Linked DNA regions of Homo sapiens. The protein of the gene in region 4 purifies or fractionates together with the protein of the main gene of each other region. This does not show direct contact. Each region holds a gene or a part of one and is shown on either strand. Other genes may lie near its edges. The genes, in order: LSR, ALG9, GRAMD1A, ADGRG5, TMX4, ASPHD2 and TMEM59.

Region 1 (4,102 bases), on a different chromosome or scaffold from region 4:
TGGGCAACACAGTGAGACCCAGAGACTACAAAAAAATAAATTTAGCGGGGCATGATGGCACACCCTGCTACTCTGGAGATGGGAAGATTGCTTGAGCCTAGGAGTTCGAAGCTGCAGTGACCCATGATCGCACCACTGCACTCCAGCCTGGGCGACCAAGCTAGGCCCTCTCAAAAAAGATACAGGTGGAAAAATGATGGACGAAGAGGGCATTGTGGCAAACCTGGGGATTTAGGAGAACCTAGTTTGGAATTCTATGAGGATTCAATGAAAGAATGTGTGTAGAGGGGCCCAGCACATAGTAAGAGCTCAATAAACGGTGGGGGCTAGGGGCGGTGGCTCATGCCTGTAATCCCAGCACTTTGGGAGGCTGAGGCAGGTGGATCACTTGAGCCCTGGAGTTCAAGATCAACCTGGACAACAAAGCAAGATCCCATCTCAAAATTAAAAAACAACACCAACAACAAAAAAACAGTGGCTTAGATGCCTGATCATTAGGGTAAGTCGTGTCCTCAACCCCTTCACATCTGCTCTGAAGGTCACCATATCCGGAAGCCTTCCCTGGCCTCCTTGTTTAAAATGGCACAGCCCCCACTCCACGCCTGGCACTCTCTGCTGTCCCTGATTCGTTTTCTCCATACAGCTTATCTTTGTCTGATATGTGACATAGTTAACATTTTATATTTGTCTTTCTTTCCTAGTTAGAATCTGAACTCTAGAAGGGCAAGGGCAAGGATTTATAACTCAAAGGTTCCGGGCTTAGGCCTCTTTTATATTCTTGATTTTGAGGTTAATTAAGAGCTCAGGCCTAGCGAGGTGGCTCATGCCTGGAATCCCAGCACTTTGGGAGGCCCAGGCGGGCAGATCACTTGAGGTCAGGAGTTCCAGACCTGCCTGGCCAACACAGTGAAAAACCTGTCTCTACTAAAAATACAAAAATTAGCCAGTTATGTTGGCAGGCGCCTATAATCCCAGCTACTCAAGAGGCTGAGGCAGGAGAATCGCTTGAACCCAGGAGGCAGAGGCTGCAGTGAGCCAAGATCGTGCCACTGCACTCCAGCCTGGGCAACAGAGCGAGACTCCATCTCAAAAAAAAAAAAAAAATTAAGAGCTCAAAGAGTTTGTTTTCATAGGCAGCAGAATGAGAAAAGTTTACAAAATAGTTTAAATGACAATAAAGTCATTATAGATTAACATAAATAAAATACCTTTTATGAAAAAAATAATCATTTTCTGAAATCAGACAAAACATTGTGAATGAGAAGGTGGCATGGTTTTATTTTTTTGCAAGTCTCCGAAGCCTGGCTGGATAGAAGAGCCTGGCTTCTCAGAGCTGCTTCAGTCTGTTGTGATATCTATTGTATGTCACGTAGCCTCTGGAAAACTCCACAGTTAGTATTGTTGGGAAAATAACTTTGACCTCAGGATCTCCTGAAAACGTCTTGGGGAACCCCAGGGTCTAGAGGCTGCAGTTTGAGAACTGTTGCTGTGGTATCCCAGGTGTCTCAAATACTGCCTAGAACATAGGTGGTACTCAGTAATTATTGTTGAAGGATGAATGAATGAATGAATGAATGAATGAATGAAAGAAAGAAAGAAATGTGTCTTTGAATCCAGCCATGTGCCCAGAATGATGAGACAGATGACAAAAGCTAAGGGACTTTAGCATGAGGAGAGGGGGTTCGTTTCCTTTTTTTTCTTTTTTTTTTGAGATGGAGTCTCACTCTACTGCCCAGGCTAGAGTGCAGTGGTGCAATCTCAGCTCACTGCAATCTCTGCCTCCTGAGTTCAAGCAATTCTCCTGCCTCAGCCTCCAGGGTAGCTGGGACTACAGGTGCGTGCCACCATGCCTAGCTAATTTTTTACATTTTTGGTAGAGATGGGGTTTTACCATGTTGGCCGGGCTGGTCTGGAACTCCTGACCTCAAGTGATCCACCTGCCTCAGCCTCCCAAAGTGTTAGGATTACAGGTGTGAGCCACCATGTCCGGCCAAGAGGGTGTTCATTTCTGCTCCTTGCCAGGTATTGTGTCAGGCACTGGGGACCCAGCAGTGGCTGAGACAGACAGGGCTCTGCCTCACGGAGCCCACATTTTCACCAGGCAAAGGATGGTCGGCCCCTAAGCTGGGAGATAAGACTTCAGCAGTTGGGTGGGGGAGCCGTGGGAGAAGCCCAGCCCACAGGGGGACAGTGCAAATCTAGAACCAAGGCGATGGCAGGGGTGAGGCTGGCACGGTAGCTAGAGACCACGTCGTGCCAAGGGCCTTGGGGACCATGGGACTATGGGACCTTAGGGAAGGCGTCTGGAATGCTGTAGCCAGACACTGTTGCAAGGAGGATTTTTCTGTAGACATGAGGCCTTCCTTATGAAGAAAGCAAGGGTTCTTTCATTCCTGGGGGTGCCAGGTGCTGTGGACTGCAGCACGCGTGGTTGCTGCCGTCACAGAGCTGTCATGCAGGAGGGCAGCGCGTCCTTGGGAAGGTGGCAGGCAGGTCAGGCTAGGAGGAAAGAGGCCGGGAAGCTGAGGGCATTTCCTGCCCGAGATGCCCAATGTAGCCTACTTCTGTCCCCAGTGGCTTAAGGCAGAGTTGCCTGGTAGGTGCCCTGGTCCCACCCTGGTGAAAGGCTGAAGGTATTTAATTAGTGCCTGAGAAGCAGAGAGGAAACAGGATGTGCCAAAACACTTTGATGGATGGTAGAGTTAACAGGCTCCTTGCCTGCAGCTGCTTCAGACAAGAGCGTCCCCAAGCCCTGGGCCTGACCTGGAATGTGGGGATGGAAGGGGAGGGGGAGGAACCAAGGCACTGGGAGGGTAAGTCTCTCTCTCCCACATAGACACACCCACTCCTTATGGGTGCCTGGGCATCTCCTGGTACCTAGAATCTGGCCTGTTTATCTCCACACCCATCCCTGGGGTCTACACTAGGCCCTGTGGGTGGCAGTTCACATCAGGGGAGTTCTGACTTTGGCTCTGAGAGGTGGTTCAGAGATGGCTGTAAGTTGAGAAGCACAGACTGCTGGGTGTGGTGGTTCACGCCTGTAATCCCAGCACTTTGGGAGGCTGAGGTGGGGGTGGATCACCTGAGGTCTGGAGTTCAAAACCAACTTGGTCAACATGGCGAAACTCCATCTCTACTAAAAATGCAAAAATTAGCCAGGTGTGGTGGCAGGTGCCTATAATCCCAGCTACATGGGAGGCTGAGGCAGGAGAATTGCTTGAATCTGGGAGGCGAAGATTGTAGTGAGCCGAGATTAGTTCGCACCATTGCATGCCAGCCTGGGCAACAAGAGTGAAACTCCGATTCAAACAAAAAAAAAAAAAAGCTGGGCATGGTGGAGTGCCTGTAGTCCTAACTACTCAGGTGGGAGGATTGCTTGAGTCCAGGAGGTTGAAGTTGCAGTGGGCTATAATTACACCACTGCACTCCAGCCAGGGCCACAGAGTGAGACCCTGTCTCTAAAGAAAGAAAAAAAAAAACAACCTCAGGCTCCGAGGGCACCATTACTGCTCTATACTGAAGAGCTGTGCAGCTTTTCCAGACCCGAAATGTCATCCACAAAACAGAAGTGATAATGGTCCTGCCTCACAGACTTCTTGCAGTAGTCCAGGTGTTTAGAACGGGGTGTAAAAGGCCGTGTGCCCTTGGTAGGAATCTTTGCATATGCATTTGATCATCTGCAGCCTGCCCAGCCCACTGCTTGCCCCCTCCTGGGTGTGCTGGGAAGGGGTCTTTGGCCCTCCAGGGGTTAGGTGCCCCAGCCTCCAAGGTGCCCTCACGCCTTTTCATCCCGACTCAGATGCTGACCTGACCTTTGACCAGACGGCGTGGGGGGACAGTGGTGTGTATTACTGCTCCGTGGTCTCAGCCCAGGACCTCCAGGGGAACAATGAGGCCTACGCAGAGCTCATCGTCCTTGGTGAGTGGGCCTGGGAAGGGGGAGGCATGGCCCTTCCTTTTGTCCGCTTCTGTTCTGTCTGCCCTCCCCTGTGTCCGCCCTCTGCCCTCCAGCTTACCCTCTGGGCTCTGTCGCCTGCTCTGCTCTCCCCCAGGCTCTGCCAGTCACTTAGGCTCCCCTGTGCCCTGCACCCCAGGCAGGGAC
Region 2 (3,489 bases), on a different chromosome or scaffold from region 4:
TCCCTAAGGGTAACTGATCTGAATATCTGCAAATAGGATGAATCTATTTTTCAGAAGTTCCATCTTTCATTTTTCTTTTTTTTTTTGAGACAGAGTCTCATTCTGTCGCCCATGCTGGAGTGCAGTGGCGCGATCTCGGCTCGCTGCAACCTCTGCCTCCCAGGTTGAAGCAATTCTCATGCCTCAGCCACCCGAGTAGCTGGGATTACAGGCATGCGCCATCATGCCCAGCTAATTTATGTATTTTTAGTAGAGTTGGAGTTTCACCATGTTGGCCAGGCTGGTCTTGGACTCCTGACCTCAGGTCATCCACCCGCCTCAGCCTCCCAAAGTGCTGGTATTACAGGCGTGAGCCACCGCACCCAGCCCCATCTTTCATTTTCAAAGAGAAGGGCATTCTAATAGGAACTGGTGCCAAGAGAGAAGAAAAGAAGTGATAACAGAAGAAATGGCTAGTTACAATATTAAAAAGCTCCTCTTTGAGATCTCCTCTGCAGGAATATCAGAGACGGAGTTGAAGCGCTGGAGAGGTAATAGGTCTAGACAGTACAGAACAATAACTGGGGAGTGTGTGAGGATAGACTGGGCTCCCCCTTGCTTGAAAGATCTCTGGCATTTAATTCTCAATTCTTGATTACTATTTTCCAGTGTAAAACTAGCACATATGATCTGACTACAGGACAGAGAATTTTAAGTGAAACATTTGCCTTACTTGCAGTAATAATGTGCTGTTCTTCACAGTAGCTAAGGCCCTCTATGTTTCCCAGAGGTAAATAAGAATCCAGGAATGGAGGTCCATCTGTGATGAATGGCTTTTTTCTAATCAAAGTAGTATAATGCTGTTTTATCTGTTTTGTCATCTTGTTTTTTTTTTTTTTTAAAAAAACAAAACCTTAATTATAATATAGCGCAAAGAAAGGCCAGGACTGATGCAGGGATTCCTTGGAAATATCAGTTCCTATCACTTTTAAAACCTGATTTTGGATCTCTCTGTTCTATGTATGTCTTTAGTGAGAGCACAATACATGGCAGAACGCTGTGCCAAATGTTATAGGTAAGGAATATAGAAATGAATGTTTTTTGTTGTGAAGGTGTTTTCATGTGATATTTTATAAACACATTTTAAAAAATCTCCATCACTTTTTAGTATAGGAAGGATAGCTTTGCCTGGGAAAAACAGTTTCAACACACCTGCTCAGAGTAGCAGTTCTCCCTCAAAAAAGCAGTGTTCAGCCTGCACTGACTGTTCTGCTTGCCAAAAGGAGGAAGCATGCAAGATACTTATTTCTCCATAGATTGTGGAGTATAGAGGGATGTGGGACTACAGATTATTATTTTTTTTCCCCGAGACAGAGTCTTGCTCTGTCGCCCAGGTTGGAACACAATGGCACGACCTCAGCTCACTGCAACCTCTGTCTCCCGGGTTCAAGCAATTCTCCTGCTTCAGCCTCCTGAGTAGCTGGGATTACAGGCACACACCACCACCGCACTCAGCTAATTTTTGTATTTTTAGTAGAGGTGGGGTTTTACCATGTTGGCCAGGCTGGTCTTAAACTCCTGACCTTGTAATCATCCCGCCTCGGCCTCCTAAAGTGCTAGGATTACAGGCATGAGCCACCGCACCCGGCCCAGATAATTTTTAATAGCCTTTGATCATGGGGTGAGTGAGGGAGTAGGTATACTTGGCAAATGCATGGTTCTCTGATTTCTAGCTCTAAAGCAGCCTTATCTGAATCCCCAAATCTTGTGATGCTGAGTACCATTACTGAACCAGTCTGCACGGTAGGCATCTGCTACCAAAATTTACCTCCTACCTGGTAGGTGTCATCTGATAAGAAAGAAGACAGGTTATTTTAATTTTTTGAGATAATCACAGAAAATTGCAGCCCATACTCTTTATTACCGAATTCAAGTTTGGAAATAGACCCTTTGTTTTAAATCATGATGGGTCTTTATCCCAATCATTTATCTGGGTCATTTTTCCAACTTTGGAGTTCTAGGAAAGAACCTTGAAAACCTGATATGATTCTGCAGCATGAGGTCTACGGTGACCATTTGGGCAAAGCTCCAGTGGCAATCATTTATTGTGTTTTGCATTTCCTGGGATTTATTGAAATAAGAATTCACTGTGATTATGTAGTCTTCTGGCTAGTATCAGGCAGCTCTGCTTTTAATTTGGTTAATTTTATTTTCTCTGAAGAGGGAGAAGAGGTACAATTTAATCTTGGCCTCCACAAGCATATTAAAGCTCACGTGTTAATCAGTGCATTCTTATGCTCCTACATTAAATGCCTTGGGTAAATGGATAAATGGACATGTGCCCAGCTTTAATTTTTTTTGCAACAGAAAGATCAGACTTCCGTATGGCATCGTTGGATTTCAGAGGCTTTCTGGTGTATCTGTAAATCTGAATGTTGCCTTCTGCCAGTCTGTATAACCAGGTGATTCATGCTGCAAATGAAATCAGGAAGCAGTAAAGTGTTAAAGCAAGAGTATTGTCCAATTCACTTGTCTTCCTGATCCTTGTACTTTATTTCACGTGTCGGTGTTTACATTACATACTTATATTTCCTGTGAAAGAAAGAGTTAAATAAATTGTAGCAGTTTGATTTTCTTTTTCTTAATGTGACATTTTCTCTTTTGCTTTTAAATCTTTCTTGGAAATTGGAAACTGAAGGAGCTCAAGTCCTTTCTCCCTGACTCCAGCCCTATTCCTCAGTGTGGAGACCTGCCTTCTACAGGCCAAATATCCCAGAATGTTTATTCTGAAAACTTTAGAAGAAGACTTTGGGAAACCCAGTGAGGATTAGTTTTATTTTAACTATGTTAAAACCACGCACAGTAGGAATTAATATATGGGCCAGGCGTAGTGGCTCACGCCTGTTATCACAGCACTGTGGGATGCCGAGACGGGTGGATCATTTGAGGTCAGGAGTTCGAGACCAGCCTGACCAACATGGTGAAACCACGTCTCTACTAAAAATACAAAATAGCTGGGCGTAGTGGCGCATGCCTGTAATCCCAGCTACTTGGGAGGCTGAGGCAGGAGAATCACTTGAACCTGGGAGGTGGAGGTTGCAGTGAGCCAAGATTGCACCATTCCACTCCAGCCTGGGCAACAAGAGTGAGACTCCATCTAAAAAAAAAATAATAAAAAATGAATAAAAATTAAAAGGAATTACTCAATACATGAACATTGTACCTAAAAGAGATGAAGTCCTGGATCCATCTTAAGTTTTTGGAATGAGAATCACTGGACTGTGAGAGTCTAATTTTCTTAGAAATCCTAATCCAGTTATATCTAACACTTAGGTAATTTCCCCCTTTGTTGGGGTTGTCAGAAGGAATAAATTTTTTTTAATTTTTATATTTTAGAAATGGCATGTGTTACATTGTTCAGGCTGGCCTTAAACAACAAACAGTCCTCCTGCCTCAACCTCTTAAGTAGCTAGGACTACAGGCATGCACCACTGCACCCAGCTGGAATAA
Region 3 (4,102 bases), on a different chromosome or scaffold from region 4:
TTTCCAGTGTGAGCCTCTCCCAAGCTTGATTTCGGGGGGCAATGAGACCCCTAAAGATGAGCCTTCTGATATGGAAGGGTCCAATGAGACAAGATTTTCACCGTCACCCACAACTTCAGCTCTGATGGCCTTGGAAATGCAGGCAATGCCAGACTCTGTTTCCCATCCGCTTTCCCCCTCGACACCTTCCCCGAGTGCCTAACACTTGCTCTGACCCACCACAACTGCTGGCCTGACACTTGCTCTGACCCACCGCAACTGCTGGCCTGACACTTGCTCTGACCCACCGCAACTGCTGGCCTGAGTCTACTGGGGCCTGAGGGAATTGTCGTGTGATGACATCACATTTATTGGGCATCTGCTTTGTCCCTGGCACTAGGCTCAAACTCAGGACAGCCAGCCCACATCCAGTGTTTCCTGCAGGCCTGGCACCACTCCCAATGTCAACTTGTCTCATCCTCACAACAGTCTTTGAGGTAGCATCAGTCATTATCCTGTGCACAGAGGAGTCCACGGCCACCATGGCAAAATCACTTGCACGAGGTCACACACCGGAATTGGAACCTGGTTGTCTGAGTAGACATTGTCCCTGAACTACACTGGGTGTCTGGGTCCACTCCGTTTTGGAGATGAGACCTCAGGTCCTTTGGAGAGTCTCTCCCCTTCAGACCATGTGACCCCTTAGTTACCCCAGAGTGGGGTAGCGGGTAGAGGGACCACACGTGGCCTGCCCTGGCTGTTGTGATGTGTCAGGGGTAGGCCTGGGACCCCAGCAGCCAATGAGAGTAAGCTCCGTGGTCCCCTGTGGGGGGAAAAGGGTGGCCTCCAATGAAGCCAACCCTGGAGATGGGCACAGGGCAGAGTGGGCACGAGAGACTGACTCTTACTGCCATTGAGTGACCAAACCCGGCCGTGCCTAATGTGAGACGCCTCTGGACTTTTCTCCAGGACGTGAGCCAATCAGTTCTGTCTTCCATCCATGCTTCCATGCTTTCCCCTGCAATGCTGTGGGGTGGGGACTCTGAGCGGCTTCCTCATTTTACAGAGGAGGACACTGAGATCCGGAGAGGGGAAGTGCCTGCCGCACGGTGGGGTTTCAACACAGGACCCTGCAGCCCCGCAGCCCCGAGCCCTGCCCGAGCGGCGCCTCCTACCTCATCCAGGAGCTCCACGGAGGCCCGCAGGATCTGCCTCCACTTGTGCACCTCCACGCTGTGGAATTGCTTCTGCAGCGCCAGGATCTCGGCCCACTCTGTGGCCGTCTGGGGGAACTTGCTGTGGGGATGCCAGGCCTGAGCAGGGCCTTGGCCTCCCCCGATGTGCCCAAGCCCCCCCATTTCCCCAGGCTACCCACTCACCCCTTGGCCAGGGCCAGGCTGTGCCAGGACTCAAAGGTGTGGGCTGTCCTTTCCAGGGACCAGAGGCGGTAGAAGAGCAGGACGTTGAGGGCGATGAGGATGATAAGGCTGGGGACAGGGGTCAGAGGTCAGGATTCCTGGGGTCTAGATGCTCTGAACACCCCCAAACAACTACATCTTGTAGGGACACCTCTATCCCCCATTGCAGAGGAGGAGAATTAGGCTCAGAGAGGATGAGAGACATGCCTAGGGTTGCACAGTCCATAGCAGGGAAGTCAGTGTTCAAACCCAGGTCTGTCTGATGCCCATACCCTTGACTGCCATGCCAGGCCACCTCCCTGGGGGAGCTGGGGGGCATGGGGTGGGGAGAAGAGGCTGCAGCAGGGGTGGGGTGCAGGGAGGGGAGGGCAGGGGGAGGACTCGGGACCCTACCTCACACAGATCCTGCAGCAGCAGCAGTGAGGGGAGACAGAGAGATGAGCGCCGCCTGGCCTGCCCCCGACACCCCCAGCCCTCCTCACCCGGGGCAGCTCTTGGCTGAGAGCACCACGCCCCCTCACTGGATGAGAGCTGAGAGCTGAGGCTCAGAGGCTGAGCATGTAGCTGGCCTGACCCTCACCTCGCAGGGTCTGCTCAACCCCGGGATCCTGCTTCTGTTTCCTCCCAGCGTCCTGCCCGCCAACTCCTGCAGGCTTCTGGGCAGGAGTGTGGGTTCTCCCTGCCCAAGCCCTTAGCCTACGCGGTCTCCACTCTCTCAGGACGCCCATCCTGACTGCCCCCTCTGGCCTGGGAGGAAGCCGCCGCTGGCCTCCCAGGGCTTCCCCACTCCCAGCCCCAACCCCTCTGCCCATACCTCCCCCATCCCAGCCCGGATCACTCTGGTCTGGTGTGAGGTCTATCTTTTCCTCAAGGTCACTGCGGTGTCCTCAGCATCGCCCAGCTTAGGAGTGGGCACAGAGAACATAATGTCCATAAATGACCTCACTTGTTAGGCACACCTCTCCCTGTGCACCTAATTCCAGAATCTTTGTGTGCCTGCTCCTCCAGAAAGCCCCCCTTGATCCTTGGGTGAGGTCAGGCCCCTCTGATCTCCCATAGCCCCCCCCGGCTCTGCTGTTCTAGCAGGGAAGGCTTCTCCATGACAAACCGGCACATCCCAAACATTGCCTTGTCTAATCCTTGCTGTGAGCAAACCCACGCTCCCACTTAAGCAGAGAGCTCAAAGAGGCCACACACTTGCCCAAGGTCACACAGCCAGGAGGCAGGTTCAGGCCTGTGTGGCCACTGCTCCTGTCTCTTACTCACACAATGCTGATGAGAACCAGGGCACTGGGGATGCCTGCCCCGGGGCCCTGGTCCACAGATGGTTCGGAGAAGCGGGAGCTGAGGGAGCCTGCAGGAGAGCAGCTTGGAGTCAGATGGCCCAGTCCAGGACCCCCGATCCTCCGCCTACCCCAACCCGGCCCCAACGGAACGTACCCGAGGTGTGAATGCCGGCCCGGGCACAGGGGTCAGGATCTGGGTGCTGGGGCCCGTCCCCGTGAGCCCGCCAGCTCAGGGGCCGCTTCCGCCGCCGCAGGCCGGATAGCAAGCCCCGGGCATCCTTCCCGCCTTCCTCCAGAGACAGCTTCTCAGCCTTGGCGAGCTCTCGCTCTGCGTAAAAGAGAGGGGGCTCTGGATGTCCATACCTGGCCAGGCCATCCCCCAACCCACGCCCCAGCCGGCCTTCTGTCCCTACCCAGATGGTGGAAATAGTCTTCAATGCCGCTCCACGAGTTCTTCTCAATGAGCGACTTCACCAGGCTCCACGGCTGCTTTCGGTAGCGGATCTCAGAAGACACTCTGGGGTTGGGAGATCAGGGGAAGGAGGTAAGGGTCTGACTCCAGCCCTGGCTGCCCCGTCCCACAAGCTGAGTTTTTTCCTTCCCCTAATTCAGAGAGGGCCCCTTGTCACTCACAGACAAAACAGATGGGTTCCCTACCCCCCATGGCTTCCCTGGATACCCCATACACCACCCGCCCAGCCCAAATGCCAGCCAACTCAGCCCTCGGTCCTTCTCCACCCATGCCCACTACCTGGGCAACGCTCCCGGCGGCCTGAGCCCTGTCTACTCACAGACTGACGTCTTAACCAGACCATGCCCCTGAACCTCTTCCATTCGGCTGCTGCACCCCAGCTCCACATGGGCTCAGCTCAACATAGACAGCTGAGTCCCAAACTGACCTCCTGGTCTTTCCCCAAACCCATTCCTCCCTGCCGCCCCCATCTGGGTCAAGGGCAGCTCCGAAGTTGTAGTGATTTGGGCCAAATGCCTCGGGATATTCCTTGAGCTCTCTTTCCCTCACCGCCACATCCAATCTCTCAGCAAATCCTGTCAGCTAAACCTGCAAAATCTCTCCAGAATCTAAACTCTTCCCCCTCCATTTCCTCACCCTGATTCAGCCTCCGTCCCCTCCAGCCTGGATGTCCCAGCAGCCTCCTCCCTGGCCTCCCTGCTCCTGTACCTGTCTTTGCAGTCTGTTCCCACCAGAACAGAGGGAGCCAGAAGGAGCCTGGGACCACCTGAGTCAGGTCAGCGCCCTCCTGGCTCAGAGCCCTGGCCTGGTTGCACCTCACTCCAGGTAAAGTCAAGTCTTCACCATGAGCCACATCTGGTTCACCTTTTTTTTTTTTTTTTTTTTTTTGAGACAGGGTCTTGCTCTGTCGCCCAGGCTGAAGTGCAACGGTGTGATCATGGCTCACT
Region 4 (4,102 bases):
GTATCACCATTTAACCATTTTCACCCACTTTGAGGCTATCATGAATAAAGCTGCTATGACTCTTCATATACAGGTTTTTGTGTGAACACGAGGTTTCATTTCTCTGGGATAAAAGCCCAAGAGTGCAATTATTGGGTCATATGATAGGTACATGTTTAGTTTTATAAGAAACTGTCGAACTGTTTTCCAGAATGGCATTGGAGTGTAATTTATTTATTCCTCTATTGATAGACATTCACATAGCTTTCAACTTTTCTTTATTAACAATACTATTCTAAATATTCTTGTATGTGTATAATCCTGGCTTGCCCTATTCTTTCCATAGGATAAATTCATAAGAATGAGTTTCCTGGCTTAAAGGATATTCAGAACGTAAAGTTCGAATGTGTTGCTAAGCCGTCCCCTTGCAGATGAGGCTCAGATCTTAGACAGAGAGTGCAGGAATGTGCCTGTCCCTACAGACTCACTGGGTGCTATCATATTTCAGATCTTTGCAGATCCAATGGTGGAAAAATGAGAACTCATGTTCTTAACTACTTTCCTCTGCCACTACCATCAAACACATATTTTGAGTTTTGTGGCTCTCCCTCTTGAAGCCTTGCAAGTTTTTGTTGACTTCCTTTCTCTAAGAGGAGGATCATCAGTTCTCTTGCCCTCCCTCCCCTATTTCCTCTTCTTCATCCTCTTAATATGTTTTTTGATTGGATTTCTAAAGTCTTGTCTATAGAGGTATACATACAATAAAATTCACCCTTTTGGAGAGGAGTTTTTGCATTTTGACAGATGTGTACAGTCATGTATACATGTATATTACAATCAAAATATAGAACATTGCTGTCCCCTGAAAAGTTGTCTCAGGCCCTTTTGTAGTTAATATCTTTTCCCTACTCCCTGGCAACTACTGATTTGTTCTCTGATCCAATAGTTTTGACTTTTCTAGATTCCACTTCCATGTTACATTCCCTCCAGAAATGAATGAGGCTTCCAGCTGTTCTATATCCTCATAATACTTTGTATTACCATTTTAATCCTAGTCATTCTAGAAGGTGTGTAGTGATATCTGATTGTGGTTTTTATATGCATTTCTCTAATGACTAATGATATTGAGTGTTTCTCATGTGCTTATTTGCATCTATACATTTTTTTTTTTAACATGTAGTTCCAGCTCTGTCACCCAGGCTGAAATGCAGTGGCATGATCTCAGCTCACTGCAGCCTCCTCCTCCTGGGTTGAAGCAATTCTCCTGCCTTAGACTCTTGAGCAGCTAGGATTACAGGCACATGCTACCACACCTGGCTAATTGTTGTATTTTTAGTAGAGACAGGGGTTTCACCATGTTGGCCAGGCTGGTTTCAAACTCCTGACCTTGGGTGACCCACCCGCCTCGGCCTCCCAAAGTGCTGGGATTACAGGCATGAGCCACCGCGCCCGGCCCATCTATATACATCTTCATTGGTATAGTGATTGTTCAAATCTTTTCCTATATTTATTGGGTTGTTTGTCCTCTTATTAGTTGTGTAAGAGTTCTTTATGTAGTCCAGATACAATTTTTTAAAAACATCAGATATGTGTTTGTAAATATTTTCTCCCAGTCTGTGGCTTATCTTCTCGTTTTGCTAACCATGACTTTCAAAAAGCAGAAGTTTTAATTTTGATGAAATTCAACTTATCAGTTTTTTGTTGTTGTTGTTGCCATGGATCACGTTTTTGGTGTTGTTTCTAAGAAATCTTTGCATAACCTAAGTCAGAAGGATTTTCTTTTTTGTTTTTTCCAAGGAGTTTTACAGGCATATCTTGGAGATATTGTGGGTTTGGTTTTAGACCACCACAGTAAAGCAAATATGGTAATAAAGTGAGTCACACAAATTGTTTGGTTTCCCAGTGCATATAAAAGTGATGCTTACGGCCAGGCACGGTGGCTCATGTCTGTAATCCCAGCACTTTGGGAGGCCGAGGCGGGCGGATCATGAGGTCAGGAGATCGAGACCATCCTGGCCAACATGGTGAAACCCCATCTCTACTAAAAATACAAAAATTAGCCGAGCATGGTGGTGTGTGCCTGTAATCCCATCTACTTGGGAGGCTGAGGCAGGAGAATCACTTGAACCTGTGAGGTGGAGGCGGAGGTTGCAGTGAGCTGAGATCGCACCACTGCATTCCAGCCTGGGCAACAGAGCGAGACTGTCTCACACATGAAAAAAGTTATGTTTACATTATACTGTAGTCTATTTAGTGTACAAAAGCATTATGTCTAAAAATGTACATACCTTAGTTAAAGGACACTTTATTGCTAAAAAGTACTAGCAATCTATCTGAGCCTTCAACAAATCACACGCTTTTTTGCTGGTGGAAAGTCTTGCCTTGATGCTGATCAAGGTGGTGGTGGTTGAAGGTTGGGGTGGCTGGCTGTTTCTTAAGACAGCAGTGAAGTTTGCCACATCAGTTGACTCTTCCTTTCATAAGATGTTTTTCTGTAGCATGTGATGCTGTTTGATAGTATTTTACTCACGGTAGAGCTTCATTCAAAATTGGAGTCCGTCCTCTCAAACCCTGCAGGGGCTTTATCCACTACATTTATTTAATATTCTAAATCTTTTGTTGTCATTTCCACAGTGTTCACCATATCTTCACCAGGAGTAGATTCCATTTCAAAAAACCACTCATTGTTCATCTATGAGAAGCGACTCCCCATCCATTCAAGTTTGATCATGAGACTGCAGCAATTCAGTCACATCTTCAGGATCCACTACTAATTCTAGTTCTCTTGCTATTCTAATCACATCTGTAATTACTTTCCCCACTGAAGTTTTGAACCCCTCAAAGTCGTCCATGAAGCATGGAATCAACCTCTTCCAAACTCCTGTTAATGTTGATATTTTGACTTCTTCCCATGAATCACAATCACATGTTCTTGCAGCATCTAGAAGGGTGAATCTTTTCCAGATTTTCAATTTACTTTGCCCTGATCCATCAGAGAAATCACTATCTATGACAGCTATAGCCTTATGAAATTTGTTTCCTAAATAATAAGACTTGAAGGTCGAAATGACTCCTTGATCCATGGGCTGCAGAATGGATGTTGTGTTAGCAGCACGAGAACAACATTGATCTCCTTGTGCATCTCCATCAGAGCTCTTGGGTGACTAGGTACATTGTCGATGAGCAGAAATATTTTGAAATAAATCTTTTTTTTTTTTTGAGTAGTAGGTCTTAACAGTGGGTTTAAAATATTCAGGAAACTATGCTATAAATAGATTGCTATCATCCAGGCTTTGTTATTCCATTTGTAGAGCACAGGCAGAATAGATTTAGCATAACTCTTAAGAGACCTAGGATTTTCAGGATGTTAAATGAGTATTGGCTTCCATTGAAAGTCACCAGCTGCATTACCCGCTAACAAGGGAGTTAGCCTGTCCTTTGAAGCTTTGAAACCAGGCATTGATTTCTTCTCTCTGGCTATGAAACTCTTAGATGGCATCCGCTTCCAATATGAGGCTCTTTCATCTACACTGAAATTCTGTTGTTTAATGTGGCCACCCTCATGCATGATGTTAGCTAGTTCTTGTGGATAACTTGCTTCTCCATCAGCACTTGCTGTTTCACTTTGTACTGCTATGTCATGGAGATGGCTTTTTTCCTGAAACCTCATGAACCAACCTCTGCTAGCTTCCACGTTTTTTCAGCTTCCTCACCCACCTTGGCCTTCATAGAATTGAAGAGTTAGGGCCTTGCTCTGAACTAGGCTTTGGCTTAAGGGAACGTTGGCCGGGGGCTGGTTTGATCTTCTATCCAGATCACTGAAGCTTTCTCCATATCAGCAATAAGGTTGTTTTGCTTCATGTGTTCACTGGAGTAGCACTTTAAATTTTCTTTAAGAGCTTTTCCTTTGCATTCATAACTTTGTGAACTGTTCGGTGCAGGATGCCTCGCTTTTGGCTTATCTGGGTTTTCACGTGTCTTCCTCACTGAGCTTAAAATTTCTAGCTTTTGATTTAAAATGAGAGATGTGTGACTCTTTCTTCTACTTGAACACTTAAGAGGCCATTGTAGAGTTATTCATTGTTCTGATTTCGATATTGTTGTGTCCTAGAGAATAGGGAGG
Region 5 (4,102 bases), on a different chromosome or scaffold from region 4:
CCAAAAAATCATCCCAGAGGTTACTTGCTAATCACAATGTGAGATCCTTTCTTCATAATTGAGATACTTAGTGTCACCACCATATCCAAGTGCTCAAAATTAGCATTACTAATGGTGATAGCATATCCCTTCTAATGAGATGTAATATGAAGTCACAGCATCATCTTAGAAGTACTCTTGCCATAAATGTCTAAGCTAAATCATGCACCTAAACTCTCAGTTTGCAGAAAATACTCGTATAAGTTAATATTCCTATAAGTTCCATGTCACCATAAGGAAACACCTAGGAAAACTGTAGCTTTTTCTTTTCAGAATATCAATGTCATTTTAAAAAATGAGGGATAATTGTTGATTGCAAGAGACTAAAAAGACTTAACAACCAAATGTAATTTATGAACCATGATTGGATCCTCAGTCAAAAAACTGTAAAAAAAAAAAAAAAAAAAAAGACACATGGGAAATAATTAAGAAGCCTTTAACGTGCTAAAGAATTGAAGGGTAAATTATCATGATGTCGATAACTTACTTTCAAATGATTCAGCAAAATAAAAATAGAAAAAATAGAAATATATATGCAAATATGTATGTGCAAACACATACACGTAAAGACAGATCCAAGTATGCAAAAAATGTAATCTGCTACTTAAAGGTGGCCAGTTCATGGGTAATCAATATCCCAGACTCTCAACTTTTCTATATGCTTGAAAAAAATTCAAAATAAAAAGTCGGTAAACTTTTGCATTTTATGTGCAACATTCACAGTACCTGGTTCTTGAATGACATCTACCTTCCCCACACTGATCTGAAGTATTTCACCATTCTTTGCAAAAGCCTCCCATTCTGAATCAGTCTGCTGGCAGGATGGACACCATGGGGCGTAACTATAAGAGAAGAATAAGAATTATATTGATAAATATACAGAAGAAATCTGCAAAACAGAGAAATCGAGTATTTAAATTAAAAAATAAATTATTAAAAAAGGGAAATTATAAAAGGAGGCTTTTCCAAAGTCATTTGACATAGAAAAACAGAAGCACATTGTCCCCACTAGGATTTAATGTATGAATGTCAATTCTATAGGAAAAAATTTGGCCAAAGTTTGAGAATATTTCCAATAATTATTATTATCCATAAACATTTTATTTCAATGCTATTCATACAATTATGTTTCTCTCCAGATAGCTTTTGATCTTTGAGGGTAAGAGCTCTTTTTAGTGCCCCACTAAAGGAGAACAATTTTCACAGGGTGACCCTAAACTAGCCAAACCAGTTTCAAATCCATCAAAGCTACAGATCTGATGGGCAGAGACCAAATCTGTTGTTTGAGCATCCTCAAGAATGTTTCCAAGATCTGTGGTAATTCTGAACATTCTGAAAAGGAAAGTAGAAGCTATAGGCTAAACCCGCTCTACCCAACACTTTCTTAAATTTAGCAGAATTTAAAAATACCTTGGCTTTCAAGTCAGAACCCTACTTTTTACAGTTATTTTTCATTCAATAAATACTAAGAAAGCATTATGGCAGAAGCTGAGGCTACAATTGTGAAGGAGATTTGGTGCCTCCTCTCCTTGTGGACGGTACAATCCAGAAATGAACAGAGATAAGCATGGGGGGCAAACATCATATTATTCTTATTTTTGCGTCTGTTTAAAATTTTTCATAATAAAGTCTTGAATAAATAGAGAAATATACCAACTTGTGGGTAAGCAGGCTGAGCATTTTTAAAATGCCAATTCCCTCCAATTTATTTTTCATTTGTTCCATTCCTGAATTGTTTTTACAAAATGTGGCACCTATTATTTCTGTATTAAGGGAGGAAAGGGGCCAGGGGAGAGAAAGAGAAGTAGAAAAGAATGCCTGCCAATAGAATATAACACTCACACACACAAAATGCCTTAGGAAGGGAAACAAAGTAAGGGGAAAAGTACAAAACTGATCAAATCCTGTAACAAGATTTAGGCTCAAAGTTGCCTGTCAGGTCATCATTTACAAATCCCTTCAAAATTCTGAACTGTGCAAAAGCATGCTGGTAAGTATCATTAAAAAAAAAAATCAATGCAATGACACATATAAACCAACTTTGCTGAATAACAAAACAAAAAACAAAAACTGAAATTGGGCAAGATTTTGATCTTTCGCATTATAAAAGATGAGTCAGGGGTTAAAAAGCGAAGACTAGGGGAAGGAATGCATTTATTTCACAAAAAGTACTGAAAATTAGGCAGAACCCAGAAGAGAATGGACTACCCAAAGCCAAAGCATTCATTACTTTCTCCAGACAGGCCCCAGAAGCAGCAAGACTTAGCAAGCACAGTTGTTCACCATCTCTAGAAAAGACTACTATATAGCTAATTCCAAGATCATGCTAAAACATCATTAATCTTTCCATTACAGCTCACTGTCCAAATCCTGAGATCCAGAAGACAGGAACAACAAAATAATCTGCTGACATCTTTGAATGTAGATTTTTTTAAACCTTCGTGTCTCTGTATTTCCAAGGCAAAGTACATTCTTGATATACAGTAGGTGTTCAATAAATGTTTGCTGAATAAACAAGTGTATCAACTTTAATGAAAATCATATTCTTCATCTGAGAAAATAAGTTATTTTCTATGTAGTTTCTAAATATCCAAGTTAACAGATGAGACTCAGGCAGTTGGCAAACTTTAGGAAAAAAAGGAATTCTGAATTATCAAGTACATTTCAACAAGCGTTCCATGATGTTGGATAAGAGTTCTGCTATAACAATCAGAAAGATCAACCAGGAATTAATCATGATATTCTGGGCAGGTTAATAATCTCTCCATGCCTCAGTTTCCTCAACTGTAAAATGGGATAATAACAGTAGCTACCTTAGGTTACTGAGAGATCAGATGAAATACGAAGCAGGCACATATTTATTTAATAGGAGCAACCATTAATACAAATTTCATTTGTAATACTGCTTGGGGTTCAAGACACTTTTACGATGCATTAGCTCATCTGACCTTACAGCCTCACTGCCAAACAGACAAAGCAGGTATAGAGATGTGCTTAAGACCACTCAGAGCAAGAACACAGATGGAGGTATTTCTTTGATAAAAATCGTCAAGGAATATAAAACTTCAACATTCAGAGGGAGAAAGAAGTTATAAGAAAGTAACAAGAATAAGGAAGTTATCTTGAAGTATAATATAATATAATGAACTTCAGATCCTCTTTATTTCCCTAGGACGCTCTTTGCATATAAATCACAGGCACATTTGCTGCATCAGTAATTATGTTTCATAATTTAAAAAATACAGGACTTAATCTCTAGATAGGCTATTACTAAGTTGGTTTTTGGTGAAACTGACCTTCAGATATACAATTATAATGCATCCTCGGATATGCCACTGAGGTAATTTTAGATATGCCATTTCTACATAGCTGCTATACACTGGTCTGTGGCATTGTTAATGCCATTATTTCACAGATTTAATCACAGCTGATTTGTGTTGGAATGCACCCAGATGTTCTTTCAGTGGTAGAGATAAGCCAGCTCTGAGTCTTTAGCATGGGAACTGGTCCATTGTTGCTGCAGTTTTTAAAGTTTTTAATATTCTTTTGTATCTAAAGAACAGTAATTTGTATAAGAATTTAGAAACTAAGTAAAATATCTCCAGGGACAAAATGAATGCAAGGATCAGTCATGTGACCTTCATGCTCCTCTCTCACTCTGTGTACACATAGATACATATATATATAATTTATGTATATATGCATAAATTAAACACATCAGAAATAATTGAACATGATCTTCATTAAATTTATTTCAAACTAGTTCACACTGGCAATCTTCTCCTAAGAACTATAAAAGATATGACCTGCCATAACTTTGTCTCTTACACATAATCCTTAAGAGCCTCCAAGAGCAATTAGCTCCATTATAGTCATTTAAACTGTAAATTGTTATCTTTTCTACTGAACTTTTGTTGACTTGTTTGCAGGTCACAGTGGTATGTAAAATTAGTAAACTTCATAAACATATTTGAAATATATTCCAGATAGCCAAAAAGCTCTGGTAAATTACACCAACTTACATGTCAGTGCAATGTTTTTAACCATTTCTGGGAAACAAAAT
Region 6 (3,730 bases), on a different chromosome or scaffold from region 4:
AGTTGAAACTCAGTATTAACTATCAGACATGTTAACTACAAGAAAATCAGCAATCAGGCCAGGCACAGTGGCTCAAGCCTGTAATCCCAGCACTTTGGGAGGCCGAGTCAGGTGGATCTCTTGAGGCTAGAAGTTCGAGACCAGCCTGGCCAACATGGTGAAGCCCCATCTCTACTAAAAATACAAAAATTAGCTGGGCACGGTAGTGCACACTTGTAATCCCAGCTACTCGGGAGGCTGAGGCAGGAGAATTGCTTGAACCCAAGAGGCAGAGGCTGCAGTGAGCTGAGATCATGGCACTGCACTCCAGCCTGGGCGACAGAGCACGATTCTGTCTCAAAAAAAATAATAATAAATAAAGAAAAATCGAAAACTCCACAATCACTTTAATTCCTCTGTTAATAGTATAACAACTAGCATTTATATCATCATGTCCAGTTTTATAACAGCCTGTTCTTTGGAGTCAGGCTGACTCAGCAACACTAAATGGTAACTTTTTAGCAGGTCATTTAACTTCTTAGTTACCCCATCTGGAAAGTGGGTGAAGTGATACCTGTTAAGTGTGTATTTAGCACAAAGCTGAGTAGGAAGACACAGTAGGTCTTCAGTTATTGGTAACAAGGATAGAAGTCCCATAGCAGCCCTGGAAGGTTCAGTATGCTAATGTCCCCTCTTTACAGGTGAGGGTATGGCTCAGAGAGGCTGAGTGACTTGCCCAAAGTCACACAGCACATAAGAGTCACAACCAGTCGTCTGTCCCCAAGTCCTCCGTCCTTCTGTCTCCTCCATGTGGCCTCTTTATTTGAATTATTACTGTGAACGTACTTCCTGGAACCATTATTTCTGGTTCAAAGAATACATTAAAATACTCTGGCTGCTGGAAGGAAAGCTATTTCATTTTTATGCTAAAGGACATTAAATCAGAGGGGAATGCCAACTGGCCCAGGGTCATTGTGGTCACAGTGAGTCACTGAAGACAGATGAGACCACCACCCATCCCAGCTCCTCTTCCAGGACTCTGCTTCCCCCTGGGTGGGCCTTCCTGAGAGCTGTTGGGCTGACCCAACCCCTTCTGAAATCATTAGATGGCCACGGTGGCCCCTTCTTTTCTGGACATCAAGGTAGTGATGGGGGCCAAGTGTTTCTGCAGACCCTTGTGTTGGAAAGGGCGACTGAGGGTCACACATGGCAGTGTTCCAACCGGACCCCACTGGCCGGTTGAAGCATACGGCTTATTTTTTATTTTTTATTTTTATTTTTGAGACAGAGTCTCACTCTGTTGCCCAGGCTGGAGTGCAGTGGTGCGATTCGCCCAGGCTGGAGTGCGGTGATGCAATCTCGGCTCACTGCAACCTTCGCCTCCTGGGTTCAAGCAATTCTCATGCCTCAGCCTCCCGAGTAGCTGGGATTACAGGCGTCTGCCACCATGCCTGGCTCATTTTGGATAATTAGTAGAGAGAGGGTTTCACCATGTTTGAGACCAGGCTGGTCTCGAACTCTTGGCCTCACGCGATCTGCCCACCCCTCAGCCTCCCAAAGTGCTGGGATTACAGGTGTGAGCCACTGTGCCCAGCCAAGCATACGGCTTCTTACAAAGCTGCCAGTCTATTTCCTCTTGAACCTAAGCCATTACCTTAGAAGTGTCCTCCAGTTTCCCAGAATGAGGGCAGACGAAGAGCACGCCATTCTCCAGCCTCAAAACGGATTAAAAGGCTAGAACCCAAGGAGGAGAACACTGTGTGAGCCTTTGATTTTTTAATCGCAACTGAGATAGTCCTAGAGGGGAGACTACAGTAAACACAGTTACTGGGTAAGGCAAGGTTCTAAACCCAACCTCCCTGGATTTCTGGGGGTCCCCTGGTTAGGCTTCAGAGTGTAGTGCAAATGTCAGTCTGTGACTTTCATAAAAGGAATCCATGACCCAGAATAGATGAAGCCAATGAAGGAATGAATTTTTGCCAAGAGTGCAGTGAAGATCTAGATGGTGGCTTATAAACAACAAAAATGTAGAACTCACAGTTCTGAGGCTGGAAGCCCAAGATCAAGGTGCCAGCAGATTTGGCGTCTGGTGAAGGCCTGCTTCTTGTTCATAAATGACACCTTCTCACTGTGACTTCACATGGTGAAAGGAGGTGGCCAGGAGCAGTGGCTCTTGCCTGTAATCCCAACACTTTGGGAGGCCAAGGTGGGAGGATAGCTTGAGGCCAGGAGTTCGAGACCAGCCCGGTCAACATAGCAAGACCCCATCTTTACAAAAAAAAGTTTAAATTAGCTGGGCATGATGGTGCACACCTATAGTCTCAGCTACTCAAGAGGGTGAGGCTGGAGCATCTCTAGAGCCTAGGAGGTGAAGGCTGCAGTGAACTATGGTGGAGCCACTGCATTTCAGCCTGGGCAACAGAACAAGACCTTGTATCTAAAAAAAAAAAAAAAAAAAAAAGATGTCAGGCCAGGTGCTGTGGCTCATGCCTGTAATCCCAGCACTTTGGGAGGCTGAGGCAAGCAAATCTCTTGAGGTCAGGAGTTCGAGATCAGCTTGGCCAACATGGTGGAACCCCATTTCTATTAAAAATACAAAAATTCGGCCAGGTGCAGTGGCTCACGCCTGTAATCCCAGCACTTTGGGAGGCTGAGGCGGGTGGACACGAGGTCAGGAGTTCAAGACCCGCCTGGCCAAGATGGTGAAACCCCATCTCTACTAAAAATACAAAAATTAGCCTGGCACAGTGGCAGGTGCCTGTAATCCCAGCTACTCGGGAGGCTGAGGCAGGAGAATCGCTTGAACCCAGGTGGCAGAGGTTCCAGTGAGCCAGGATCGCGCCACTGCACTCCAGCCTGGGCGACAGAGTGAGACTCTGTCTCAAACAAAACAAACAAAAAAATTAGCCGGGTGAGGTGGTGGGTGCCTGTAAGCTACTCCAGTGCCTCCCAGCTACTCCGGAGGCTGAGGTAGGAGTATCATTTGAACCTGGGAGGTGGAGGTTGCGGTGAGCCGAGATCACACCACTGCATTCCAGCCTGGGCAACAGAGAGAGACTCCATTTCAAAAAAAAAAAAAAAAAAAGGGAAAAGAAAAAAAGATGCAAAAGGAGGTAAAGAAGCTCCCTTGGGCCTGTTTTATAAGGATGCTGCTCCCATTAGGACCCCACCTTCATGATCTGATCACTTTCCAAAGGCCCCACCTCCTAACACCATCACCTTGGGGTCAGGTTTCAACATGGGAATTTGCAGGGACACAAGCCCACAAGCCTTCAGACCATAGCACGGGCTCCAGAGGTGTGAGGCAGGTCAGGTGCTTTAGAAGTCAAAAACTCTCAGTAAGGCAAATCACCCCCTATCTCCTGGCCTTCCCTGAATCTTGCCTGCCTTCACTCTCCTTTCTCTGGTTTTCCTACAAGGTCTGAAAACTCCAAATGGCTGTGAGCTGGTGGTGGGGGGAGAGCCCCAGTGCTGGGCAGAAGGGCGCTGCCTTCTCTTTGATGACTCTTTCCTGCATGCTGCGTTCCATGAAGGTGAGTGGCTGCCTTTCCCACTTCCTTTTTTTCAATGAATAGACTTTTATTTTTTTAGAGAAGTTTTAGGTTTCCAGAAAAATCAGGCAGAAAGTACCAAGGAGGCCCCTTCATATCACCCCATAACACATATACACACACAGTATTGATGCGTTATTATTACCTAAAGTTCATGGTTGACATTAAGGTTCACTCTTGGTGTTGTCCATCCATTCTGT
Region 7 (4,242 bases), on a different chromosome or scaffold from region 4:
GAGCCACCGCGCCCAGCCTAAAACGAGATTTCTATCTCGTTTTTCAAACGCTATGTGAGTTTGAAAATTCATCTAATTTCTTACAATACACAGTGCTTTTTCCTGGAGCACAAAGCACAGAGGAGAGCCAATAGAAATCAGTGACATAATTAAATATGTTTCTTTTTTTTTTTTTTGATGCAGAGTTTCCCTCTTGTCGCCCAGGCTGGAGTGCGGTGGCGCGGGCTCACTGCAACCTCTGTCTCCCGGGTTCAGGCGCTTCTCCTGCCTCAGCCTCCTGAGTAGCTGGGATTACAGGCGCCCGCCACCACGACTGGCTAAATTTTTTTGTATTTTTAGTAGAGACAGGGTTTCACCATGTTGGCCAGGCTGGTCTTGAACTCCTGACCTGAGGTGATCCACCCGCCTCAGCTTCCCAAAGTGCTGGGATTACAGGAGTGAGCCACCGCGCCCGGCATTTTTTTATTTTTATTTTTTTGAGACACGGTCTCATTCTCAGACTGGCGTGCACTGGCGACATTTCGGCTCACTGCGACCTGCGCCTCCCAGGCTCAAGCAAGCCTCCCACCGAGTAGCTGGGACTACAGGTGCTCGTCTCCATGCCTGGCTAGTTTTTTTGTTTTTCTTTTTTCCAGAGACGGGGTCTTGCCATGTTGTCCAGGCTGGTCTCAATCTCCTGAGCTGAGGTGATCCACCCACCTCGGCCTCCCAAAGTGCTGGGATTACAAGCGTGAGCCATCGCACCCGGCCGAATATGTTTAATGCAAGTTTATTAATAGGAGGCAGCATAGTGTAGCCAGTTTTAAGCTGAATTCCTGCTCCACTATTTCTTGGGTATGTGACCTTAGGCAAGTCACTTAACCTTTCAGAGCCTCAATTTCCTTAATTTTAAAACCCTACTTTACAGGGTTGTTGTGAGAATTAGGGATAATGGTATGATAAATCTCCCATCACTCTGGCTAACAGTGGAGTCTATATAAATTTCAAGTCCAGGACCTATAGGGAGCCAGATGATTTGGAGTTCTTTGTGAGAAAAGCTTTAATAAATAAGTAAAAATAGTTTATAGATATAACACCAATTGTTAGAAAATAGTGGACATTATTAAAGTACCTACAACTTCCAGGAAGGTATCCTTTCAAATTATTTGATTATTTTCCCAACATTCTGGTTTATACCACAAAATTGCCGAGAAAATCCCAAAAAAGGAAACAAACCCTAGAACAATAGAAAGTAAGTCTCAACCCAATTCCAGGCCAAATCAATATTAATGAGCTTCTTCATACAATCCTCTTAATGATGAGAAGTTTACAAGAGGTGGAGAAAAATAACGTGGTTAGAAGCAGTATTCATTGATTTAAGTCTGAAGTTAAAACTTCTCACTTCTTTCTCGATTGTTACATAAATCTCTGGAAAAATTTAGTACAGTCCCTTCTCCCACACTTTTTTTTGAAAATTGATAATCTCCATGCAGTTTAAAATCCAGCCGTAACAAAATCTGAGAAGTGCCGGCACTTAGAACTTTTCATTTCAAAGACCTGAAAATACTCGCCAATATGGAACATCCTAAGCTTCACTGGAACTGTCTCCGTAGCCACTCCAGTTTTAGAGAGCAAGGAGGTCCAGCCACAATGGTTAAGCAAATAGCATAGAGGAGATGAAGGAAAAACGAAGAGGAAACCACCAGCAACATCAACAAAAGCTCTCATAAAACAACGTGGGGGAGGGCATATACTCAAATCATACATGGGAAAGGTGTGGTGGGAATCATCAAGCAATTTAGAATGTTGAGTAAACAGAGTTCTTAGGCTGAAAAACCAACGTGAAGAGGGTTAGGTATGTAATTAAAAGAAAGGGGGGAAGCATAGAGAGGAGGGCCATTCCTCTCTGTAAGCTGCGAACCCCCTCCTGTCCACAGTCTCATTTCTTCACCCACTCCACGAATTCCCCGTTTTCTGCACTGAGTGGTCAGTTTCTGGTAGGCAGACACCTAATTGCCTCTTCTCTAACCCAGTCCCTCTTGGCAGCGTCTTGGACACAGTAACTCAACATAGGCAGACAGCATTCCTGAGCGTCTCGCTACTCCCTGAGCTGCCTTCGTGACGCTTTTTATACCACAGTGGAATCGTCTACTTGTCTGACTCCCCGAAGACTGCGCTCCTGGCCCCGAGAGGCGCTTAGTAAACAAGGGTTATCAATCAATCATTTGTGGACTCGCGTATCTGCGCCTCCCTTTCTACAATCCCCCCTTACGCTCCCTTAGGTGAGGACCCCGCATTAATCATCCATATCCTCCCCTATCCTCCTCCGAGTGCTCGACTCCCCTGCAGCCCGGCAAGCTCCCAGAGGAAAGGGATCGCGTCTTTCTCATCTTTGTGTCCCCCAGCCTATCACAGGGTAGTGCAGGACAAACTTCCGGTAATGACAGCAGAAATGGGGTGCAGGCAGGATTAGGGAGGAAAACAGGAGCTACACAGATGGGAGACAGCGATTGAAGGGCCGATTTAACAGCCAGGTTGCCAGAGCCGACATACGTGTGGGGAGCCGAGAAATGGGCTGCAAGGGAAGGGTCGCAGCCCGCTCCGGACGGGCCCTACCTTAGGGTAGGTGTGCAAGGGGTAGGTCAACTGACAGGCCCGGTGGCAAGACGCCGTATCACCCAAGACCGAGTCAAATGCTTCAGCCGAAGCGGTCCCCGAACCTCCGGCCAAGGCCATGGTCAGCAGCAGCAGCGGCGGGAGCCCCAGTTGGGTCCTCACCCAGAGGCTCCCCTTCGGCGCCGCCATCTTGTTCCCCTCTGTCACAGCAGCTCAGCTTGTTGCTGTTTTCTCGGAAGGGTTTCCTCCTCCTCCTGGGGCCAGCCCCCTTCTCCGCCCCACCGACCGTTGCTTCCGCCTCCGCTGTCACTTCAGCTCCGCCCTCACCCGCCAGAAACTGCCGCCTCCTGCCTCACCTCTGGGACTACGAACTTCTTCTCCTAGGCTGGCGTGAGGAGGGGAATTCAACCATCGCAAGCGTTAGCGCGAAGCGGGGCCTCCTGACTTCTTCCCTTCGCGGGGCAGGCTGGGGCATGTAGTTCTCCGTAGGCGGGAGGCGCACGGTGCTGTCGGGAAAGTTGGTCTCGGAAAACTACAGCCGCCCTCAGCGCGCCTTCCGCCCGCATTTCTTCGCAGTGCATTCTGGGGAATGTGGTTCGCTGTGGCCCAGAGGCGCGAGGGCCGGCGGAGTTTCTTCAGAGGAACTACCGCCCTGGGAGGAAGCGTCTGTTTAGTTTCAACACAGACGACTGGGCTTGGGAGCCTACGAGGTTGCAGTCTGGAGGGCGCCAACAGCAGCTACCAGGGCTGCTTTTCCTGGTGGGTCTCACGTCAGACCGTTGTTGGGTGCCCCTACCCGGGCTCCTGAGTGCTGGGAACGAGGAGGATGGGGTTTCTCCTTGTTCGGGGATCCAGAGATTACAGCCGTGGGTAGGGTCCTCTGACCACCGAGCAGTTTGTTCTAGGGGATGCTGCGTATTGTGAGACCCTCTGCTGAGTTCTGGAGGTGGTTGTCGGTTGCTGATTACCAGGGCAACCCTTGGGATTATGGCTGTGGTGAGGTGGTTGTTAAGAGGGCGTCACTGAGCCTAATGTAATCCTAACCCTTTCACAGCCCAATCTTATTTGGAAGAGGGCTTAGGTGCACGCTCTAGCGGGGATTCCAATATTGGGCCAATTCCCCCAATGTTGGAATCCTCGCTAGAGCGTGCACTTCTGGAAGCTAGGAACCTCCTAACTCAGGACGTAGACTGATGATTGATTACAGTTTCAATTCTTCGGAAGATCTTTCTTTTAAAGAGAAAATCTTACTTCCTGTCAATTCCACTCGAGGCCCCATAATTCATGAATTCTTCCAGAGAACTCAATTGTGTTACTTTGGGGAAAAAATATCATGGCAGTCTTTAGTGGGGTTTTAGAATCTGCCCTCTTTCTTGACCAGAACACGCTGCAAGCACGTCAAGGTAGTCGGAGTCCCCTAACAATGGATAAATTCGTCATTCGAACGCCTAGAATCCAGAATAGCCCTCAGAAGAAAGATTCTGGAGGAAAGGTTTACAAGCAGGCCACGATTGAATCTCTGAAGGTGAGAGGGGATCTGGGGCTAGAGGAAATGTGCAAAGGACTGATAGCAAGGTGGTGCTAGAGGTTCTGTTGTGGAAAGACCTATGAATTATTTCTTGTTATGCCTCCTCCTCAAAGTGTACC

The links.
Region 1: the proteins of ADGRG5 (region 4) and LSR purify together in Homo sapiens (co-immunoprecipitation; 3 studies listed by BioGRID and IntAct, with this or other methods). This does not show direct contact.
Region 2: the proteins of ADGRG5 (region 4) and ALG9 purify together in Homo sapiens (co-immunoprecipitation; 3 studies listed by BioGRID and IntAct, with this or other methods). This does not show direct contact.
Region 3: the proteins of ADGRG5 (region 4) and GRAMD1A purify together in Homo sapiens (co-immunoprecipitation; 3 studies listed by BioGRID and IntAct, with this or other methods). This does not show direct contact.
Region 5: the proteins of ADGRG5 (region 4) and TMX4 purify together in Homo sapiens (co-immunoprecipitation; 3 studies listed by BioGRID and IntAct, with this or other methods). This does not show direct contact.
Region 6: the proteins of ADGRG5 (region 4) and ASPHD2 purify together in Homo sapiens (affinity purification with mass spectrometry; 2 studies listed by BioGRID and IntAct, with this or other methods). This does not show direct contact.
Region 7: the proteins of ADGRG5 (region 4) and TMEM59 purify together in Homo sapiens (co-immunoprecipitation; 2 studies listed by BioGRID and IntAct, with this or other methods). This does not show direct contact.

What each region holds. Positions count from the first base shown.
Region 1 is NC_000019.10:35,255,146-35,259,247, forward strand, and holds part of LSR (lipolysis-stimulated lipoprotein receptor isoform 2 precursor), read left to right. Parts: intron 1-3,799; coding exon 3,800-3,919; intron 3,920-3,925; exon of another isoform or gene 3,926-4,102. UniProt on the Homo sapiens protein: Probable role in the clearance of triglyceride-rich lipoprotein from blood. Binds chylomicrons, LDL and VLDL in presence of free fatty acids and allows their subsequent uptake in the cells.
Region 2 is NC_000011.10:111,781,315-111,784,803, reverse strand, and holds the end of ALG9 (alpha-1,2-mannosyltransferase ALG9), read left to right. Parts: 3' UTR 1-2,609; downstream 2,610-3,489. UniProt on the Homo sapiens protein: Mannosyltransferase that operates in the biosynthetic pathway of dolichol-linked oligosaccharides, the glycan precursors employed in protein asparagine (N)-glycosylation.
Region 3 is NC_000019.10:35,020,600-35,024,701, reverse strand, and holds part of GRAMD1A (protein Aster-A), read right to left. Parts: intron 3,201-4,102; coding exon 3,097-3,200; intron 3,012-3,096; coding exon 2,838-3,011; intron 2,752-2,837; coding exon 2,664-2,751; intron 1,803-2,663; coding exon 1,791-1,802; intron 1,467-1,790; coding exon 1,359-1,466; intron 1,276-1,358; coding exon 1,155-1,275; intron 1,006-1,154; coding exon of another isoform or gene 961-1,005; exon of another isoform or gene 917-960; intron 1-916. UniProt on the Homo sapiens protein: Cholesterol transporter that mediates non-vesicular transport of cholesterol from the plasma membrane (PM) to the endoplasmic reticulum (ER).
Region 4 is NC_000016.10:57,548,844-57,552,945, forward strand, and holds part of ADGRG5 (adhesion G-protein coupled receptor G5 isoform 1 precursor), read left to right. Parts: intron 1-4,102. UniProt on the Homo sapiens protein: Orphan adhesion G-protein coupled receptor (aGPCR). Ligand binding causes a conformation change that triggers signaling via guanine nucleotide-binding proteins (G proteins) and modulates the activity of downstream effectors, such as adenylate cyclase.
Region 5 is NC_000020.11:8,009,435-8,013,536, forward strand, and holds part of TMX4 (thioredoxin-related transmembrane protein 4 precursor), read right to left. Parts: intron 882-4,102; coding exon 766-881; intron 1-765.
Region 6 is NC_000022.11:26,439,061-26,442,790, forward strand, and holds part of ASPHD2 (aspartate beta-hydroxylase domain-containing protein 2), read left to right. Parts: intron 1-3,398; coding exon 3,399-3,512; intron 3,513-3,730. UniProt on the Homo sapiens protein: May function as 2-oxoglutarate-dependent dioxygenase.
Region 7 is NC_000001.11:54,050,405-54,054,646, forward strand, and holds the start of TMEM59 (transmembrane protein 59 isoform 2 precursor), read right to left. Parts: upstream 2,801-4,242; 5' UTR 2,785-2,800; coding exon 2,596-2,784; intron 1-2,595. Other genes in the region: TCEANC2 (transcription elongation factor A N-terminal and central domain-containing protein 2), read left to right, coding at 4,019-4,120.